2 separate regions of the Homo sapiens genome follow, and region 1 is linked to region 2. Evidence: fine-mapped expression QTL. A gene starts in region 2. The other region holds a variant in brackets. All regions are shown on one strand. Distances are between the middles of the regions.

Region 1 (10,923 bases), 150 kb before region 2:
CACTTGCCTCAGCCAATCAGAGCTCAGCTATATGGACCAATCAGAACTCAGCTGTGTCAACCAATCAGACCAAGCAAGTCTGAATCCTTCATTTGCATAAAGGGACTTGATTAAGCACCTGGGCAGGAAATGTCAAAACTTCTCTTTCTCCTCTGGAATGCGCCTTCATTTTACAAGGAAGGCTGCATCTTCCTGGTTTGCAAACTATTCACTAGAATAAAGCCTGTTTCCTCCAAACTCCTTTTCAGAGAACTTTTGTTCACAGTAAGTTATGGGAATCGTATGGATGTTTTTGAAAAGTACAAGTTTCAATAAAGGAGGTATCTAAAGCAATTGCTTATTACTAGCTATTTTAACTGGTAATCAGGAAACAATATGTGAAGCATTTTATGTTCTATTATGACTGTTTATTAGTTTTCATTGTTTATCTGTGCTTTATATTTTACAAAATCGGTTAGGAATTTTTAGCGGACACATAACACATTATAATGTTTTACCATTTAAAATAATGGGGCCAGGCACGGTGGCTCACGCCTGTAATCCCAGCACTTCGGGAGGCCAAGACAGGTGGATCACTTGAGGTCAGGAGTTTAAGATCAGCCTGGCCAACACGGCGAAACCCTATCTCTACTAAAAATACAAAAATTAGCCAGGTGTGGTGGTGGGCGCCTGTAATCCCAGCTACTCGAGAGGCTGAGGAAGGAGAATTGCTTGAACCTGGGAGGCAGAGCCGAGACCGTGCCACTGCACTCCAGCCAGGGTGACAGAGCAAGGCTCAGTCTCAAAAAAAAAAAAAAAAAAAAAAAAAAAAGGTTGGGGGGGAGTGGAAATGAGACCCTCTTTTAGAACATTTGATTTTCAGGAATGGAGCTGTGAAGTTAAGCAATAGATAACTCTATGTCATTGATATTTAAACCTTATGATCCTCAAATGTGACAAAAGAAAGCTACAGAACACATCTCGCTTAAAAATATCAATCCAAAAATCCTACAAAAAATGTTAAAGAGAATCCAATGGCATATTACAAAATAAATATAATAACCACTTGGATTTATTCTAAGATTGCAAAGATATTTCATATCAAAAAATTCATTACTATAAATCCCCATATCTAAGGAGAAAAAAATATATGATCTCTATGGATGCTGAAAAGGTCTTCAAGAAAATTCAACATCTATTCCAGATAAAAACACTTACTGAAGTAGGAACTAATGGATACCACAACATAATTTTACACACACACAAACAGACACACACACACATCCCTCAGGCCCCAAACCAAAATTTTATTTAATGTAGGCGGAAACAAGGTAATGCCCAGTAATTCCATTGTTATCTGATAGTGAAATCAGACAAAAAAATAATAATGAGTGGTGTAAGACTTAGAAAGAGTTAGAAGTATATTTGCAGAAGTTTTGATAATATATCTCGGAAAAAAAGGGGGAATCAGTGAAACTAATAAACAATTTGAGGATTCAGAAAAGTAGCAGGATACATAATCAACATATAAAAACTAATAGCCTAGATTTCTGTTTCTAGTAGAAGTAATAATAGGGACCAGACAATCAGTTGTTTTTAGCAATCGAAAACACCAGACATTAAGAGAATGAAAAACCAAGCCACAAAATGGGAGAAAATGCTTGCAAAAACACATATCTGATGAAAGACTTGTATCCAAAATATACAAAGAACTCCTAAAACTCAACAACTAGAAAACAAACAGCCAGAATAAAAAGTGGGTAAAAGATTTGAATAGGAATCTCATCAAAGAAAATTATACACATGGCAAATAAGCACATTAAAAGATGCTCAACGTCATATGTCATTAGGAAATTGCAAAATAAACAAGATATCATTACACGCTTAATTAGAATAACTCAAATCCAAAACACTGACAACACTGAATATTGGCAAGGATGTGGAGCAACAGGAACTCTCATTCATTGCTGGTGGGAATGCAAAATGGTACAGTCCCTTTGGAAGATAGTTTGTCAGTTTCTTATAAAGATAAACAGTCTTACCATATAATCCAATAAGCATGCTATTAAGTATTTACCCAAATGAGTTGAAAACTTATGTCCACACAAAAACCTGAACATGAATGTTTAAAGCAGTTTTATTCATAATTGCCAAAAATTGGAAGCAACAAGATGTCCTTCAATAGGTGAATAAATAAACTGTGGTATGCCCAAAAGACAGACTATTAATCCAACGCTTAAAACAAATGAGCTGTCAAGCCACAAAAAGACACAAAGGAAACTTAAGTGCATATTGCTAATGGAAAGAAGCCAATCTGAAAAGGCTGCATACTGTATGATTCCAACCCTATGACAGTCTAGAAAAGGCAAAACTATAGGGACAGTGAAAAAATCAGTGGTTGCCAACAGGGGTGTGGGGAAGAGCATAGGGAGCCTGGGGAGGAGTCACATCTGGATTCCTGCAGATAAAAGCCAGGTAGGGAACCTAGGCTCATCCTCAAGCTGATCCACAGAGAATCAGGTGAGGGAGCTGGGCAGGCAGACTCACTTGTGCCCATGGGAAGTGAACAAGAAAATGAACCAAGGGCAACTTTCCTCCAAGGAAGCAAAGGAAAAGGGGAGGCTGAGCAGTTAGAGGCTGTGTCTTCCATGGTTATACCTGGAATTGTGCGCCAGTCCACAGGCCCCAGGTGAGAGCACCTGAGCAAGAGAGAATGTCATGCACATGTGTGTGTCTGGAGATCTGTCTGCAAACATGGGCACGCACACGTCTGTGTGTGCGGATGCATCTGCAAACACGGACATGCACACATCTGTGTGTGGAGATCCGTCTGCAAACATGGGCATGCATGTGGTGGCACCTGATTGAGTCCGTCTGGTCTGCTTAAGACCTAAATGCTTCTGCTGGCATTCATGTGAGTCCTGTTTCTATGGCCTCTCTTCTACCCCTTTTTTCTCTGTACTTAAGAAAGGAGGGCTCCTCCTTGATGCCCATGAAACGCCCATGCACCTTCCCCACCACGTAAGGGGCCTGTATTTGTAACCAGCAGATCTCTCCCTATTAGACAGGTTTCAAGACAGGAATGACATCTTGGTCCCCTGTGCCCTCAGGGACTGCACACAGGCAGGCATGGAAAGGCTGTTCCGAGCATGTGAGTGAGCAAGGGGAGGAAAGAAGGCAGCTCAAATAAAGGCCTGGGAGCACAGCCTCAGAGCAGGGATGGCACAGGCCCATGAACAAATGGGCAGACGCAGTGGAGAGCCTCCTCCTCTGCAGCCCCTCGCTCTCAGCCCCAGTCAAGGCCGTGGACAGAGTCCTCAGCCAGCAGCTTTTGTGCAACCATCAAGAGTTGTGCCTGTTTTGTGGTCTGTCTTCCTGACAAGACTGTCTCCCTCCTACTATGCTCTCAGCACTCTAACACAGCACCTGGCACTTAGTTGGCAACGTGCAAATATTTTGGGAAGGAAGGAGAATGGAGCTCAACCTCAGTTATCTCTGGGGCACTAGAAATCAACAGGACATCAAGGGACAGATGTTGACAGCAAAGGACTCTCTCTCCAGCCAGGAGAACAATTCACAGAGGTAGGCTGGGTCCCCAGTGGCTGCTGTGGAGCAGGAGGGAATGGGGGTTGCTGGACCTGCACAAGATGGGCCCTGCCCCACTGGCACAGGGAGATACTCACTGGGAACGACCGTGGCTTCCCCAAGAGGGCCCGTCAGCATCACTGGGATATGTACAATAGTGTTCGGGTCTGGGGGCTGACTGCCCATGCGAGTGACGTTCCGCTGATTGTCTGCATCCTCTGGCTGTTCCTCCACCTTCTGGAGACAGGTGCTGGGCAGTGTGTGCATGGGACCCACAGTCACAGTCCCACTGGTCTCCAGGTCACAGTGTGGCTCCCTGCAATCAAGAATGTACATCAGGCCTCGGCGCAGTGGCTCACACCTGTGATCCCGGCACCGGGAGGCAGAGGCAGGAGGATCACTTGAGCCCAGGAGTTCAAGACCAGCCTGGGGAATATGGCGAAACCCCATCTCTACAAAAATTAAAAAATTAGCTGGGCGTGGTGACACGTGCATGTAGTCCCAGCTATTCAGGCTGGGAAGGCTGAGGTGGGAGGATCGCTTCAGCCCGGGAAGTTGAGGCTGCAGTGAGCCATGATTGCGCCACTGCACTCCACCCTGGGCGACAGTGCGGTCCTGTCTCCAATAATAATAATAATAATGCACATCAGCAAAATCCTATCAACCAAAACCCTTAAGCCTCCATGCAGACCAACTAAATCCATAACCACCTGCTCTGCTACTCTGGCCTTCTGTACGTTTTTTAAATTACTCTATACACCTCCGTGTCTTTAGTCCGAAAGGCAGGGATGGGGCTGACCCACCCACACACAAAGACAGGGCGGCGGCTGGGTTGACCCTGGGCTGGGGCCTCCAGCGGCAAGTATTCTGGTTGGTTTGTGGCCAGTGGGTACCTGGCGACTGCTGGTCTTGGCCACTGGACCACTGTTACCCCAGGCCCTCACGGGGTTGGTGAGTCCTGCCCCAGGGAGCAAGCTGGGCTAGCTGGGGTTCTTTCTGTCATGGTCACACAGCCTGGCCCCCACACCCCGCTCTGCGCCCAGCCCACTGGCCTGCTCAGGCTTCCCTTGGGCCCTTCTGCCTCTCCTTCCTCCACTGCAATCCCCAACTTTCTCTTCTCCCAGGGCCACTTTGTTCTTTCCAAGCCAGTCGCAACAATTCCCCCTTAAGCCCTCCCTTCTTAAATAACGGCTGGCATTCACGGAGCACAAACACTCTGCCAAGCCTTTTACGGAGCATACACGCCCTGCCAAGCCTTTTACAGGTCAACCCTGCAAGGCAGGATTGTCACCACCCCACGTGAACGGCATGCAGAGACCCCAGCCCCGACGGCTCTGGACATGGCAGCGTGGCCGGGGCTGCAGCCTCCGCCGTGGACCCCATGGCCGCAGCCACCGCTGGGGCCCGCGCCGCCCCGGCCAACCCTTCCCTCCCTGACCCCGCCCAGCCGCGGACTCACCGGGGCTGGTGGTTCCGGAGCTCCTTTTCCTTGTCGGCTTCCACTATCTCAGCCTCCTTCTCCGTGGCCTCCTTCTCCGTGGTCTCCTTCTCCACAGCCTCGTGAGCAGGCTGCGCCTTGTGCCGGGCCCGGTGCCGCCGCGCCGGCTCCTCCCCGCTCTCCGCCTCCCGGGGCCCCGCTCGGGGGCCGCCGCGGTGCCGCGCGCGCCGCTCGCCCTTGGCGCCGGCGCACTCCTTGCTCGGATCCTGGTGCCGGTGCGCGCGGTGGCGTCGGGGCTCCCGCTCGGCCGCCTCCTCCGGGGAGCCGCGCCGGTGGTGCCGCCGGCCGCCCTCGGGGCCTGGGCCTCGGCCGCGCTCGCTCCGCGCCTCCGGGGGCCCCGCGGCCTCCTTGCTGTGGCTGCGGTGCGGCCGCGGCCGCTCCTCCCGGGCACCGGGCTCCCCGCTCTCCGCCTTCGGGGCCTCTGCTCGGTCCTGGTCCCCCGCCGCGGGGGTCTTGTCCTTGTCGCGGTGCCGGTGGTGCCTGCGCGGAGGGTCGACGCCCTCGGGGGCCTCCGCAGCCTCAGGTCGGGCTTTGCCTCCCACGGGCCCCCGCGCGCCGTCGCGGCCCAGCTCCACCACCAGCGGCCGGTCCAGGTGCGTCTTCATGTCGGGCCGCAGGTGGCGCGTAGTGGCGAAGCGCAGCCGCTCCTCGGGGTCCATCTCGCTGTACAGCGCCTCGCAGCTGGCCCGCAGGTTCTGCAGCCGTAGCTGGCTGGCCCGCTGCTCCCACACCGAGCGCGCCTTGGCCGAGTTCTGCTGCCTGCTGCGGGGAGACTGGCGGTGAGCGCGGCCCCGTCTGCCGCCCGCCCGCCGCTCTCCAGGGAGGCCACAATG[C/G]ACACACAGCAATGGAGTAATGGCGCAGGGAGGTGGGAGGCGTGGCCGCGGGAGCCCCCACACCCCTCGGGGGACGCGGATCAGGTGGGGAACGCCCAAGGGAACCGAATTCAGCCCCGCCGCCCCCCCCCCCCACGGTGTCCCACAGGACCCGCAAGGTGAAAGCACCAGCCTGTCAGGAGGACCCTGGGGGGCTCAAGGAGGCCGAGGGGTACAGGACAGTGGGAATGCACCAGACAGGCCAAGCAGGTGGGTGGGCGGCTGGCCAGGAAGGCCACCGCGGGAGGGAAGGGCATGTTACAAAGGGCAGGACGGATGGAGAGGCAGGAGCCAGGGAGGCCCTGTAGCCTCCCTGGGAGCTGGCCCCTGCTGCAGCACCAGCACAGCTGCTACAGGAAGGGCGGGACACGCGGCCCCTTCTCCAGAGGCACTTCCCCATCGCTGCCTCCAGGAGGCAGGCCACCAGCCAGGTGAAAAGGCTGTTTGCCAGGGAACCCAGAGGGCAGTTGCTGTGGCAGAGCAGACAGCAGCCAAGGGAGCACCTGGCCCTTTCAGGAGCAAACGCAGAGCCTCTGCCAGTCCCCGAGGTGGTCAGCCGCAGCCCCGCAGCTGCCCCCTGGCTCAGTGACCAGGAGCCCAGAAGTCAGGTCTGAAGCTGGAAATGCCACCTCCCGTGGCCACCAATGCCCTCCTCTCTCTTGACTCCATGGAGAGCCCCTCCCTCTACTGGGAGCAGAGCCAGAACATGGTCCTCGGAGCCCTCCAGCACCAGGGATGGCCAGTGGTCCAGGCTCGGCCCTCACTGCATGGGCTACCGAAGGCCTTGACCCCTACTCCAATGTCATGGGCCCAAGCACCTCCTCTATTCACACATCACACATGGGGCTCCATAGCCCAGAGTGCACAGGAAGCCCTTTGCATTCTGGGCCTTCTGCTGAGTAAGACCACCTTTGGATAAGGTCTTATTATCCCAAAACTAAGCCCCACCATCGCCAGGGAGAAACCTCATCTGAGGCCAGAGGCCCGCCCTGGAGCCTCCAAGGCTGCTGGATGGCCTTGGCGGCAGCAGTGACTACACCAACAATGAGGGCCATGGCATCTGTGTCCTGCAACTGCCACGTGGTGCTCTGGGCGCAGTGCCCACTTCATCCAGTCCTTACAACCACCTCAAGAATCAGGTGCTACTCTTGTCCCCATTTCACAGATGAAGATACTGAGCCTAGAGAGAGGATGTTACTTGCTCAGGGTCCCACAGTGAGTCAGGATCAGACACAGGCAAGGGCAAAAAGGAAAAACATTTCTAAAGAAGACACGAGTCCTTGGCCAGACCCCAACTGCACTAACAACACAGGCTACAACCACGGCCTGCAGAGGCCCAGGCCGGCGGCCACCAGCTCCGGGGCCCTGAGCCGCTGAGCACCACTCTGACCTGCAAAGACAGAGCAGCCAGATGTGGGAAAGCCCAGTCCCTGCAGCCGGCCCACCCCAGGCAGGTGAACAATAAATCCTGCCCCTTTGTAGAAGTCCAGGCTGCAGTGGGAGCAATGTCCAGGGGCAGCACTTTGCACGAATGAAAGCGGAAGTGTGGTGTCTGTGTCTCACCTGGGAGCTTGGGTGGGGTGGGGGCAGGCAGGGCTACCTGTAGGGGCCGTCTGCAGACCCCCAGCCTCAGTTGAAGCCCCAGGCCCTGACCTGTATCCCTGATGCATTTAAACTGTGCTGCCCCTGCTCCCAGGGGTGCCCTACAACTGACCCACAGAAGACCCACCAACCCCAGCTGGGACCAAGACAAAAGGGCTCTACTGCCAACAGTGCTGAGTGGTGTAAAACAGAAGGCAGCCCCAGGGGCTTGCACCAGGCACAGGAGCCCTGTGAGGGCGGAGGCTGTTCACTGCCTCAAGCCTCCCAGTCCACTCCAGTGCCCGAGAGGGGCCTGGGCTCTGAGCCACTTGGTCAGCAGGGTGGCCCGCTCTGATGAAGCCGTGAATCTTGGGGACCAGCATTGCAGTTCCAAAAAGACAGGCAGTGAGGACCATGGGGAACATGCAGAGGCACAGGGTCTGTGTGAAGGTGGGGTGGGCTCCAGACCATATAGCTCTGCCCTCACCCTTGCATTCAGGTGTGGCTCCTTCTCGCCCAGGAAACACCTGGAGCAGGGAAAGGCCAGGCTGTCTGCTGGGCTGAGGGCGCTGTCAGGCTGGCAGGCTCCCCCGTGACCACCCAGGCAGAGCAACATGCTGAGCAGCCTACGCTAGGGCACCTGCCCGCCCCCCGCAGCCCCACTGGTTCCACCTGGCCTGTTCCTTCCGGGCCTATCTGCCACTGTCAGCCCTAACGTCACCAGAGACTGTCTGCATCTGCCCTCACTCGGCCAGCACCACCAAGTTCCTCTCTGGAGGTATCCCCTAGGTCTCTGAATCTGCGTGCCGGGCCTCTCTGCATGGTGTCTTAAGTCAGCCTGCACCTCCCCTGGCCCCTGTCTCTGTCCTTGCTCTATCTGGCACATATCCACACCAACTTAGAGTGAAGTGTGGCTGGTGATTAATCCAGGCAAAGTCCTGGTTTAAAAGGGTTCTTTAAGGAAGTCACATGGACGACTGGCACCCCTGTGTCCTGGCCTCAGCTGGTAGGCACAACCCAGCTGTTCCAGGGAGGAGGGCTCAGCCATGCTCAGCTGGGTGCTGTGGGGAACTACAGGACTTGGAAGTGGCCTCAAGGCGCTCTGTGGCCCTGCTTTGAGGTCTCTGGGCTCAGACAACCCGGAACTGCTGACAATATGAAGCAGCCCTGGTGTGACACCATGGATACCTGCCATCTGCATTTTTTTTTTTTTTTTTTTTTGGGAGACAGAGTCTCGCTGTGTCGCCCAGGCTGGAGTGCAGTGGTGTGATCACGGCTCACTGCAACCTCTGCCTCCCGGGTTCAAGCAATTCTCCTGCCTCAGCCTACCGAGTAGCTGGGACTACAGGCGCCCGCCACCACTCACGGCTAATTTTTTGTATTTAGTAGAGACAGGGTTTCACCATGTTGCCCAGGCTGGTCTCGAACTCCTGAGCTCAGGGAATCCGCCCACCTCAGCCTCCCAAAGTGCTAGATTACAGGTGTGAGCCAGCGCGCCCGGCCACCATCTGCATCTTACATCTTATTCCACCCCGCGGATGGATGCAGGATCCAGCATGCTTTCTTGCCCCAGGAGACATCAGTGCCTCTGACAGCCAGCAGCAAACAGTGCTCGTGGAAAGACTGAGCCCAGCTCCATGCTGGCTGCCAGCAAGGAAGCACTGGGCAGGGCGGGGGCGGCAGGGGCCTCACCACCACTAGGACAGGGACAGGACACCTGGCCACTTCCATCAGGGCAGGTGGCCTAACTGCACCTGGCCACTTCCATCAGGGCAGGTGGCCTAACTGCACCTGGCCACTTCCATCAGGGCAGGTGGCCTAACTGCACCTGGCCACTTCCATCAGGGCAGGTGGCCTAACTGCACCTGGCCACTTCCATCAGGGCAGGTGGCCTAACTGCACCTGGCCACTTCCATCAGGGCAGGTGGCCTAACTGCACCTGGCCACTTCCATCAGGGCAGGTGGCCTAACTGCACCTGGCCACTTCCATCAGGGCAGGTGGCCTAACTGCACCTGGCCACTTCCATCAGGGCAGGTGGCCTAACTGCACCTGGCCACTTCCATCAGGGCAGGTGGCCTAACTGCACCTGGCCACTTCCATCAGGGCAGGTGGCCTAACTGCACCTGGCCACTTCCATCAGGGCAGGTGGCCTAACTGCACCTGGCCACTTCCATCAGGGCAGGTGGCCTAACTGCACCTGGCCACTTCCATCAGGGCAGGTGGCCTAACTGCACCTGGCCACTTCCATCAGGGCAGGTGGCCTAACTGCACCTGGCCACTTCCATCAGGGCAGGTGGCCTAACTGCACCTGGCCACTTCCATCAGGGCAGGTGGCCTAACTGCACCTGGCCACTTCCATCAGGGCAGGTGGCCTAACTGCACCTGGCCACTTCCATCAGGGCAGGTGGCCTAACTGCACCTGGCCACTTCCATCAGGGCAGGTGGCCTAACTGCACCTGGCCACTTCCATCAGGGCAGGTGGCCTAACTGCACCTGGCCACTTCCATCAGGGCAGGTGGCCTAACTGCACCTGGCCACTTCCATCAGGGCAGGTGGCCTAACTGCACCTGGCCACTTCCATCAGGGCAGGTGGCCTAACTGCACCTGGCCACTTCCATCAGGGCAGGTGGCCTAACTGCACCTGGCCACTTCCATCAGGGCAGGTGGCCTAACTGCACCTGGCCACTTCCATCAGGGCAGGTGGCCTAACTGCACCTGGCCACTTCCATCAGGGCAGGTGGCCTAACTGCACCTGGCCACTTCCATCAGGGCAGGTGGCCTAACTGCACCTGGCCACTTCCATCAGGGCAGGTGGCCTAACTGCACCTGGCCACTTCCATCAGGGCAGGTGGCCTAACTGCACCTGGCCACTTCCATCAGGGCAGGTGGCCTAACTGCACCTGGCCACTTCCATCAGGGCAGGTGGCCTAACTGCACCTGGCCACTTCCATCAGGGCAGGTGGCCTAACTGCACCTGGCCACTTCCATCAGGGCAGGTGGCCTAACTGCACCTGGCCACTTCCATCAGGGCAGGTGGCCTAACTGCACCTGGCCACTTCCATCAGGGCAGGTGGCCTAACTGCACCTGGCCACTTCCATCAGGGCAGGTGGCCTAACTGCACCTGGCCACTTCCATCAGGGCAGGTGGCCTAACTGCACCTGGCCACTTCCATCAGGGCAGGTGGCCTAACTGCACCTGGCCACTTCCATCAGGGCAGGTGGCCTAACTGCACCTGGCCACTTCCATCAGGGCAGGTGGCCTAACTGCACCTGGCCACTTCCATCAGGGCAGGTGGCCTAACTGCACCTGACCACTTCCATCAGGGCAGGTGGCCTAACTGCACCTGGCCACTTCCATCAGGGCAGGTGGCCTAACTGCACCTGGCCACTTCCATCAGGGCAGGTGG
Region 2 (10,923 bases):
AATACAGCACTGGCACCCCTGGGAGAAGCACCCCCATAGCACACAGGGTGGCAAACAGACTGTCTCACATTCGTTCATCTCCAGCAGGGCTGTGAGGGGACCCCAGTGAGGGGACTGCAGCTGCCCCAGCTCCACGGCGCAACTGAGCTTCAGAGAGCACACGCCCGGGCCTCACACGCTGGGCCTCCTGGCCTCAGCTTGCCTACCCTGTGAGGACGACCACGAAGTCCATGACGTTCCAGCCGTTCCGCAGGTAAGAGCCCTTGTGGAAGACAAAGCCCAGAGCGATGATTTTGATCCCTGCCTCGAAGCAAAAGATCCCGATGAAATAGGGCTCCGTGTCGTCCTAGGAGAAGCGCAGAACAGTGGTCACCCCTGGCCCCTACCCGGTGTAGTAGCGGGCAGAGACGGTTGGTGAGGACCCCACCCCACCATGTGCAGGCCACAGCTATCGTGAGGGTCTGACCCTCCTCACCTTGCCCCCAACACCCTGCAGATTCTCCAAGGAGCCATTCCCATCACTGAGCCTGCTTGCTGTCTGCACATGTCCCCTAATGGGGACACCACTGTTTACAGCAGCAACATCCCAGTCATGCCTGCAGGCCCCTCGTGCCTCCCACCCTGGCATCTCAGCTTCTGCCCACGTCACAGTGGGGCCCCAATCTCCCTGCTAGCACCATGCAGTGGGCCTTGCTTCGGGGAAGACAGTGATGTAACAGTACTAGTTGTGGGTGCTTATCAGGTAGTTTTTCCTTTATCAACTAGGGTGGCCCTTTAATACCCCATGAGGTCATCCCCATTCTAACATGTGGGAGACAGAGGCACAGAGATGCCCAGGAGCCAGGCAGAGGCCACAGCAGCCTCTGGGTGGGAACCTGCACAAGGTTGCCTGGATACAGCTCAGGCTTTCTTGAACTCAGTCCAGGCCCCGTTTATGCATTCAACATGCACCCGGGTAACCAGAACATGCACATCTCGGCAGAAAACAACAGAAATGAGAAGCACAACCTCAGCCCTGAGTGTGCTGAGCGACGACCGCCACATCTGTGAGGACCCTGGAGGCAGCCAGCCACAGTCTGAGCCTGAAGCTGGGAGCCACCCTGGGCTCAGACCGCAGGGAGCCTCCCAGAGGGCGTGGCGCCTGCAGGCAAGGCTTCCACAGCTCGATTTTGAGAAAGGGATCCAGGTGGAGGGAACAGAGCAGCCAAAGGAATGAAGACAGCTGATCCTAAAAAGATCCCTTTCCTGCACCCCAGGCTGAGCTCCAGCCAACAGTTACTGGACATGAGAGAGCAGAGCCAGGCCCTACCAGTGCCGAGCTGGAAGCAGCAAACAGGGTGGAGATGGGGCTGTGTGGAGCTTAGGGAGACCCCAAAGACTCCTCGTGAGCACACGCGTGGGGCTGGCAGGGAAAGGCCCTGTGCAAGGCAAGCCCGGGAAGCTGGGCTGAGGGAGCTGCATGTGCAGGGTTGGCATGGGGGTGTCGGACACCTGCACTCCAGGGCTGCTGCCTTAGGAAGCAGGTGAAGGGGTGGGGAGAGGAGACCAGCTTCAAGGGCCTCCCCTGAGGGTTCGTCTTCAGGACTGTGGAAGTCACAGGAAGAAGCAGCTGCTGGGCTGCCACAGAGCTGCCAGGTGAGGTGAGTGCCACCAGTTCCACAGCCTGTGCCTTCCTCCCCAGGAAGCCAGGCTCTCGAGGGCTCTCCGCATCTGACTCCCACCTTACTCAGCCTGGGCTCCTCCTGTCCTGTGGTGGAGCTGGCCCAAGGCTTGGCTGGCAGTACCTGGTAGAAGCTACCAGCACCCAAGGGTCCATCATGACCCGTGCTGACTCGCCCATGCTCTTCCTGGCCTCGAGCCTTCTGGTCTGATTTGTTTAGGAGGGACCCCTTTTCCCAAGGGGTGGGGTTGCTGACCATCTGCCCCAGGGGAACAGTGGGGCCGCAGCAGACAGAGATCTTCACAGGAAACTTCCTGGTGAAAAAGAGAACAGGCCCGACGCCTAGGAAGGACCAGCCAGCACCCTCAGCTGGGAAGGAGCCCCCAGCCCGAGCCCTCTCCTCACAGCTCTGCCCTGCCCAGCCCATGGCTGAAGGCTGGCTTAGGTGGGAGGGATGGGTGTGCAGGCAGCTTGGTGTTGCACTGCAAGCTGGGGCCTGGCTCGAGGTAGCTCCAGAGTCGACGGGGAGGTGGGAAACAGCCCCGAGAGGCAGGGAACCAGGGAGGCCTCGCCCAGGGCCAGGCTGGGAGACAACTGAGGGGCTGCCCCTGCACCACCCAGCCTCGGCCTGCTCTGTGGGCAGCAGCACAGCCTCCCCTCCATCCCAGGGGACATCAATGGCTGGGCCTGCACATGGGACTGGGACTGGTCAAGAGCTCCCCAGACCTCTAGGCTGGCTCAGGGCGGGCATGTTCTGCAGTTTTCCCAACAGGTTAGCTCGCCACTCCTAGAAGTGTCCTCCCCAACCTATGACCACAAAGTAAACCCTCCCACACCTGCGAGGCAGGAACTTGCAAGGCTGGACACCCACTGCCTGGCAGGGCAAGACAGCTTGATCCTCCCTGCCCCCGCCCCGGCCTGGCTCCTGGGCCTGCGTCCCTCTGACCCTGGCCCTGCCCTCCTTCCTGTGACTTGGCATTCAAGGCTCTCTGCCTGTTTCCTCTCAAGCTCACCCTCTTCTCCAGCCTCCAGAAAGCAATGGGCCCCACCAGGGTCCTGCCCAAGTCCCCCACAGGGACCATGACTCACGCCTGCCTCATGGTGTGGCTGGGCTGTCCATGCTCCTCCTCCTCACCCGGCCGTAACCCAGACCACTGGGCATTCCAGACTGTGCTCCATTAAGACCTCCTCACCTCGGCCACCCATAACTCACCTCCTGGTGCCTCACCTCCAGGACAGGCTCCCTGTCTCCCCTTCTGCACTCCTGGGCCTGCGGTGGCCCAGGTTCAAAGGGAGTTCAGTTTCAGGGCTAAAGTCTGAATAGCTCTTGTCTCAGGATGCTAGTGGGGGCGGAAGCCAGGCTTAAGGGAAGAGGGAGCAGCTCCTGACACCCCAGAGAGGCCGTCTCCTGGACGCCTCTGGCCCCGCACCCCCTGGGCCCCCACTTGCTCTGCCTTCTGCTCACCTGGAGGCTCCAGTCTTTAGGCACACTCGGAACCCAGACATGGGGCCAGGCATCAGGGAAGAGTGGGGGCTGGGGGACATGCTCTGACCTCAGAAACTGCTCACCTCCAAAATGCTGCCCTTCCTCTGACCCAGCCCCTCCAGAGACCCCACAGGGCTGGCCTTCCACCTTGCCTCCTGTTGAGCCACGGAGACCTTGCCCTGGCACCCTGACTCACACAGACTCTATGCTCCAATGGGGGCTACCACGGGGGCCTCTTGGCTGGAATCTGGGGACAGGTAAAAATGATTCAGAATGTTTGAGAAGGAATGCTTCCCACAGGATGGTGAGGCCCACTGGAGAAGAGGTTCCAAGCAGGCCCGCACAAGACAACTTGGAGGATGAGGCTCAGGGTTCCCACATCCAGGCCAAAGCCCATCTCAGCCCAGCAGGGCACACATGGCATTCAGAGCTGACCTTCCCGAAGACATGAATGCCCCTTCCCCACCCCAAGTTTAGAACATGGTTTTCTGGATCAAAGTCTAGCGCCGAAAGCCAGGACAGCCATTGAGGTGCAGGAGTAGCTCGTGGCACAGGGCAGACTGGCCCAGGGCTAACGTGGCCACGCCCAGGGCTAAGCCGGTGACCCCAGCTGCCCTGGCCCTCGAGGAAGGTGTTATCTGCCAGGCCTACCTTTTCCTTCAGACGCGAGGGGCACTGCCCAGACGACCCTGCCCGAGGAAGCTGTTCTCAGGCACAGACCATAAAGGAAAGTGGAGTCGCGGCCTCCCCACCACCCTGCCCTCAGGCCCAGCCGGGCACTCACCAGCCGCTCGGACATGGGCGTTTTGTCCCCATCAGGGAGGTGCTGCTCCAGGGCCAGCACGATGCAGTTGGCGATGATGGTGGCCAGGATCATATACTCGAATGGAGTGCGTGAGTTAAGGACTGGCCGGCAGACGCCGCACGGAGGGAAACACGAGGCCGACGCCAGCAGAGCCCAGTGCAGCAGCCACCGCTAGGCCGTCTCCGGAGGGGCTGAGACAACTGGGTCCGGAGCCCCTCTCCTGGCGGAAGCGGCCTGGTCTCCCTCACTCCCTGCCCCCATCCCTAGGGGCGGCCGCGAGGCGGGGCCTCCGCAGTCTGGGCCGCCAGCCCCTCGGCACACCCGGGCGGCCGTCAGCACCGCGGACAGCGCCTCCGGCCCGGCTCCGCCCGACTCCAGGGCCCCGAGGGGAGGGGGCCGAGCGCCCCCAGGCGAGGCTGGAGGGAGACCCCGCGCAGGCGCACGCTGCTCCCTCCAGACACGCAGCCACATGTACCTACACAGGCACGTGAACATGCATGTAGCCCGCATCGCGAGCGCACGCACGCGCAGCGCCAGGCTCCAGCTCAGCCCGCACACGCAGGCACCTGCAGCCAGGCGCGCGCACGGCCGCGTCCCCACAGCGCTCGCACCTGCACGGACGCGGCTTCGCCCTCGGTGCCCTCCAGGCTAGCCGCGCACTGTGCACCGACCAGGATCCCCAGGACCCGGCGTGCGGAGGGACGAGTCCGGAGCAGAGGGGCTCCGCCCCGCGCCCGCCGCACTCACGGAAATGCTCCCGCACCCGCCGCTCCGAGGGGCCCTGGGGCGCTCCGTACCCCCCTCGCCCGTCTCCCGACGCCTCCCCAGGTCGCGCCCTCCCGGCCACCGGGAAGATGGCCCCGGCCCCGGCCCCCACCCCGGTCCCCGCCCGGCCCCGCCCGGCCCCGCCCGGCAGGATATGGCCACTCGGTGATGCGCTTCGCGTATTTGCGGACGACGTTGTCCTCGCTGAAGACGAAGAGCGAGCGGTTGACGGTGAAGCAGTTCTGCTTGACCGGGATGGGGTTGTACAGCGCCATGGTCCGCGCGCGCTGCGCGATCGATTGCTTGTAGAGGACCCGCTGGCCGGGCTGCAGCCCCCCGGGACCCGGGCCCCCCGCCCCGCCGGCCCCGCCGCCCCGGGCCCGCTCTCCGCCGCCGGGGCCCCCATAGCGGCCGCCCAGCTCGTCCCCGAAGCGGACCATGGCTCCCGGGCCCCGCGTGCATCCCCGGCCCAGCGGCCCCGGCAGGGAGGGCGCGGGGCGCGCCAGGCGCTCAGAGCGGAGCAGCCACGGAGCCGCCGGGACCGCAGCGGACCTCGCCCGGCCCCACCGCCGCAGCCGCCGCCGCCTCACCCGACTCCGCGGCCCCGCGCCACGCCCTATAAGGGGCCGGTCACGTGGCGGGGCCCGGCCAATCCGCGCCGGCCCCGCCCACCCTGCCGCGCCGGCCCCGCCCCGCGGCCGCCCCCGCCCCGCCCCGGCCCCTCCGGCTGCGCCTCCCTCGCCCCGCGCCTCCCACCCCGGGGCTGGGCCGGGCCCAGGAGCGGACGAGCCTGTGGGTCCTCGACGGCCGCTCAGCGCCAGCCCGGGCCGTCCCCGGAGCCCACTCTGCCGGCCGCACCGCCCCTGGGTGCCCTCGGCTCCTCAAACTCGGCCCAGACGGACCCCTCGCTCCGCCCGGAGGCGCCACCAGCCCTGGGGCTGCAGCCCAGAGCTGGGCGCCAGGCCTGGGCCGGCCCGCCCCGTCCCCGCCGGGTCCCCGGCCTTCCCAACCCTCCGGGTGCGCTCGGCTCGCGGCCTTGGTGCCACGCGGACGCTTCTGTCGGGGGCCCCCAGCCCGGGTGCGGGACCTGCTGTTTCCACGCACGGGGCTGGCTCCGGGATCTCAGCTCAGAGAAGCCTCTGACCGCCTTGCAGGCCACGCCCCGTTAGGGAACCTGTCACGGTCACTGCCATTCCCCAGGCCTCCTTGAGCGCCCACCGCGGGCCGGGCCTGTCCTGGGCTCCCAGCTCTGCCCTCACGGAGCTGACCGTTTTGTACAAAGCACAGCAACCATTTACACAGCGCTCACTTCGTGCAGGCCCGTGGGTCCTCACAACCTCCAAAAAGGCGGCCCCGGGGTCGGGGAGACCTTCGGGAACAAGGGACCCTCTCGGACCTGAAGCTCGCTCGCAAGGCGCTGAGTGCAGAGTGAGGCCGGGTGCGGGCTGCGCCTTCTGAGAGGGAGGCAGTCCGCACAGTTCCGAGCAGAGGCGCGTAGGCCTCTGAAGGGTCCCTCGGGCTGCCGTGTGGAGTGTGGACTGCAGGAGGCTGGGGTGCTGAATCACTTAGGATGCATTCAGAGGCGAACAACCCGCTTCCCAGCTAGCAGCAGCTTGCACGATGCCATTGTGATCTCACTGAATACGAAGCCACCATCTCTCCTCCCTCCAAAATCCCCACATACACTTTCTGCCTTCCTGCCTGTTGCCTCATGCCCCAGGGTGGCTGTCATAGCACAGGGCATCACACCGCTACACCAGCATCTCAAACGGGAAGGAAGTGGCAGGTGTACAAAGGATGACCACTTTGTGAATCAGGTTACGATTTTCTTTTCTAACAAAGGAAAAGCTTCTCAGAGGCTCCCCCTGCAAGTGTCTCTTTAACCCCGTTAGGCCATGGGCCATGTGGCCGGCCCTGACTTTAACAGGGTGGGAAAGTGAACATGTGTCAAAGTGGACCAGGATGGCCAGCCCCCACTAGGCGAGCACATAGTTGCCCCAAACAAAATCAGGGTTCGCTTAGCTGGGAAGCAGGTGCTAAGGCTGTCGGGGAGGCTGCCAACTGGCCTGTCACAGAGAAAAATCAGAGCCCAGGGAGGGGTTTTGACAGCAGCACAGAGAGAGATGATGTGGTTTGAACATGGGGGCCATGAGCAGTGCCTCTTTCTCTTAGAGAGAGTGCGTCCAGTGTAAATGTGAAGGAGAGATAGAAACACAGGCTCTTCATTTTTGGTCTGAGTGACTGAGTCGAGGGGGATGCCCTTTGCCGAGATGGGGAAGACAGAGGGAAGAGCTTGTTAGTCACAGGGTGGAAATTAAGAATTGCCTACTGGGGACAGAAGTGGAGATGCTATGCAGGGGTGGAGTTTCTCGAGGGATGCCAAGACGAGAGGCCACTGCTGCAGCCCTGCGCCTGGAGGCTGGGCTCGCCACATCTGCTCTGCCCTTCCCTCCGTGCTGCGTGACGCTGGAGCTGGCCTTTGAAAGCCACATCAGCCTGTTCCTTGACCTGTGGTTTCTGGTTATGCTAGCCCAACAGGAGCACCAAAGGCCCTTGAGGGAAGGAAAGAGCAAGGCCAAGGTGTCTACTATTCCCCTGACTTCCTCCTGCCAGGTCACCGAGGGTTGGCTGTGCACCTCAATTGAAGCTCCGGCCCTGTCAGGCACCCACCACTCTCCTTTCTCTCTCTCCAGTTCCAGTTCCTGCGTCCTCCCCTTGTTCCTGCCAGCGGGGGATGGCATCACGCAGGCATGGTGAATCCTGGCCCTTGGGACTTCCCTGCGCCTTGCACAGATCGCACAGATTGTGGTAGATGGTCCCTTGCAAGTGTCATCCTGCCTGATGCATCACCACCGAGGAAGCGACCGAAGTCAGAGACAGAGGATGCTGCCACTCCCCAAGAATGAAGCCGGTGAGGAGGAGCAGCCAGGGCTGTGGGGGGTCGGGGGAGTGCCCTGTCCCGGAGCTGAGGGAGGAGTGCGTGTAGTCCATAGAGATGAGGACCGACATTCAGCCATCAGAGTGGAAAGACAGAGGTGCCCATCACCCGGACAGCAGTTTCCACAGAGGAGCAGCCCGAGTGGGGCGGATTGAAGAGAATGAGTTGTGAGGAAGTCCCTACAGCGGGTGTAGACAGCTCGTTCAGTGAGGAAGTCCCTACAGCAGGTATAGACAGCTCATTCAGTGAGGAAGTGCCTACAGCAGGTGTAGACAGCTCGTTCAGTGAGGAAGTCCCTACAGCAGGTATAGACAGCTCGGTCAGTGAGGAAGTGTCTATAGCGGGTGTAGACAGCTCGGTCAGTGAGGCAGTGCCTACTGTGGGTGTAGACAGCTTGTTCAGTTAGGAAGTCCCTATAGCGGGTGTAGACAGCTCGGTCAGTGAGGCAGTGCCTACTGCGGGTGTAGACAGCTTGTTCAGTTAGGAAGTCCCTACAGCAGGTGTAGACAGCTTGGTCGGTGAGGAAGTCCCTACAGCAGGTGTAGACAGCTCGGTCGGTGAGGAAGTCCCTACAGCAGGTGTAGACAGCTCGTTCAGTGAGGAAGTGCCTACAGCAGGTGTAGACAGCTCGTCCAGTGAGGAAGTGCCTACAGCAGGTGTAGACAGCTCGTCCAGTGAGGAAGTGCCTACAGCAGGTGTAGACAGCTCGGTCGGTGAGGAAGTGCCTACAGCAGGTGTAGACAGCTCGGTCGGTGAGGAAGTCCCTACAGCAGGTGTAGACAGCTCGGTCGGTGAGGAAGTCCCTACAGCAGGTGTAGACAGCTCGGTCGGTGAGGAAGTCCCTACAGCAGGTGTAGACAGCTCGGTCGGTGAGGAAGTCCCTACAGCAGGTGTAGACAGCTCGGTCGGTGAGGAAGTCCCTACAGCAGGTGTAGACAGCTCGGTCGGTGAGGAAGTCCCTACAGCAGGTGTAGACAGCTCGGTCGGTGAGGAAGTCCCTACAGCAGGTGTAGACAGCTCGGTCGGTGAGGAAGTCCCTACAGGAGGTGTAGACAGCTCGGTTGGTGAGGAAATCCCTACAGCAGGTGTAGACAGCTCGTTCGGTGAGGAAGTCCCTACAGCAGGTGTAGACAGCTTGTCCAGTGAGACAGGGAACAACACAGATGCAGCATTAAGGAGTTTTTTGTTTGTTTGTTTTTTAAGGTAGGGGATATTATTGGACTTCGTATGTGATGGCAATGACTCAACAGAAAGAAAAATTGCTGATGCAAGAAAAAGAGTGTCTTGCCTCGTCCAGGCAAGAGGGCATCAGACTTGGGACAGCTCACTCGAGGCAGGGAAAGAAAAGCGGGTCGCACGATTGCAGGCACAGGTGGGCTGGAGGATTCATTTGGGGGAGGATGAGGGTTTTATTGTGATTATTCTACTTTCTCAGTGAAACAAGAAACAAAACAAGCAACTGAGAGTGAGAAGGGGGCATTTGCAGGTTGGCGAGGGAGGAGAGGGTTTGAAATGCTCATCCAGGGCTATAGGGAAGAGAATCCACAAGAGAAATGTGTAGAGTTGACAAGTCTGGAGCTGGGGGTGACTAAGTCCAGGACAGGCTGCGTGGTGGGCACTGCTGCAGTGTCTAAGCCAACGACCAGCGAGCTTGTCACCCCTCGAGGGTCCCATCTTCCTCCGGACCCTCCAGCACACTTGCTCACAGCCCCTCCCCCATCCCTCTCCAACCTCAGAGTCCTTCTGCTGCCCCCTGTCCCCCACCCCCATCCCTCACTCCCTCACCCTCTTTCTCACCTGGCAGAATTCCCATCTGGAACCTCCAGAGACACCCACCCAGGCTCCCGCCACTGGGGAAGGTCACAAATTGGACAGACTGGTGTCACTCTGGTTCCCCAGAAACTCCTCCAGGGGTCCCAAAGTTGGTCACAGCCCTTGCGGTGGGAGGTGGTGGTTGTAGCCACACCCCGGCCGCCCTCCACACTAGGCTCCTGCACCCCACCCTCCCAGCACAGCACCTGCAAGCCCAGCACCTCTTCAGTTGTTCCTGCGATGTCCCCTGTAGATCTCAACTCTGTCACTGTGTGCTGGGTCCCCTTATGGGGAAGCGGGGAGGAGAACTAGGAGGGTTTTTTTCTTTTTATATAATTAACATTTAATTCTACAAATAATAACAGGCACTAGGGCTCTGTGGAAGACACAGAGGATCCCAGCATCCAAGCACGGTGCAGCCCCTCCCGGACTTCCGCATCTCAGAGGTCATCACTGTCCAGAATTTTGTGTTCACCGTTCCCTTTCTCTCTGTACATCTACGTGCAATTTATTGTGCAGTTGTACATGCTTTTGAAATTCATTTCTTTTTAAAAAAAATAAAAAGTCTCGATCTGTTGCCCATGCTGGAGTGCAGTGGTGCCATCTCAGCTTGCTACAACCTCTACCTCCTGGGTGTAAGCAATTCTTGTGCCTCAGTCTCTGAGTAGCTGGGACTATAGGAGTGCGCCACCACAACTGGCTAATTTTTTGTATTTTCATAGAAGACAGGGTTTTACCATGTTGTCCAGGCTGGTCTCGAACTCCTGAGCTTAGGCAATCCGCCCACCTGGGCTTCCCAAAGTGCGGGGATTACAGGTGTGAGCCACCTCGCCCAGTCCCATGCTTTTGAAATTCACACAAGAGAGCTAAGCTGTCGTCCTGTGGTGCTGCAGCGCACTGTGTTGTTGGGTGTAGCTGTGAATCACTTGTTTTCACCACATATGTTAGTCTGTCGTGTGACAATTTATTGATCCATTCTACTTTGACGGAGATTTGTGCTGCTGTCCAATTCCTGCCATTTCAATTCTCCAATGAACATTTAATGTCATTCTCCTGGTGCTTGGACAAGAGCCTGCAGGTCTAACCCGAGGAGAGAAATTGCTGGGCCATGGGACGTGCCTCTCGACCTCACTGGATGCTGCTAACTTAGGGCCCGAAGTGCAGCGATGACCGTCCCGCAGCACCACACAGACCCTAGCTCGCTTGGCATTGTCTCCAACACTCTAGTGTTATCAGCCTTCATGTTTTTGTCAGTCTGGTAGGCATTTCAGGTCCCTCACTCTGTTTTAATCTGCTTTTTCCTGCTCACTAATGGAGTAGGGCATTTTCTCACATTCCTTGCCCATTCACGTCTTCCCCTTTGCCAAAACGCCTGTTCAAATCTTCCACCCACTTTTCAACTGGATTCTGTCTCTCCTTCTGATTGACTTGTCGAAGTCCTTACATGTTCTGGGCAC

Evidence for each region.
Region 1: its variant is fine-mapped to the expression of CACNA1B in thyroid (GTEx, PIP 0.98).

The regions. Positions count from the first base shown.
Region 1 is chr9:138,017,912-138,028,834 of GRCh38, reverse strand. It overlaps CACNA1B (calcium voltage-gated channel subunit alpha1 B), which reads right to left. Exons shown (of 47, transcript NM_000718.4): 19 at 5,024-5,824; 20 at 3,663-3,880. Among named protein-coding and RNA genes, the nearest start is that of CACNA1B-AS1, 76 kb to the right of the region's middle. The variant C/G (reference allele first, on the strand shown) is at 5,896.
Region 2 is chr9:137,872,167-137,883,089 of GRCh38, reverse strand. CACNA1B (calcium voltage-gated channel subunit alpha1 B) reads right to left here and starts at 5,308. Exons shown (of 47, transcript NM_000718.4): 1 at 4,873-5,308; 2 at 3,931-4,036; 3 at 207-346. The coding sequence starts at 5,156. CACNA1B-AS2 (CACNA1B antisense RNA 2) reads left to right here. Exons shown (of 4, transcript NR_121583.1): 2 at 88-253; 3 at 7,410-7,627. RefSeq lists enhancers at 1,430-1,931, 4,200-5,115, 8,350-9,549.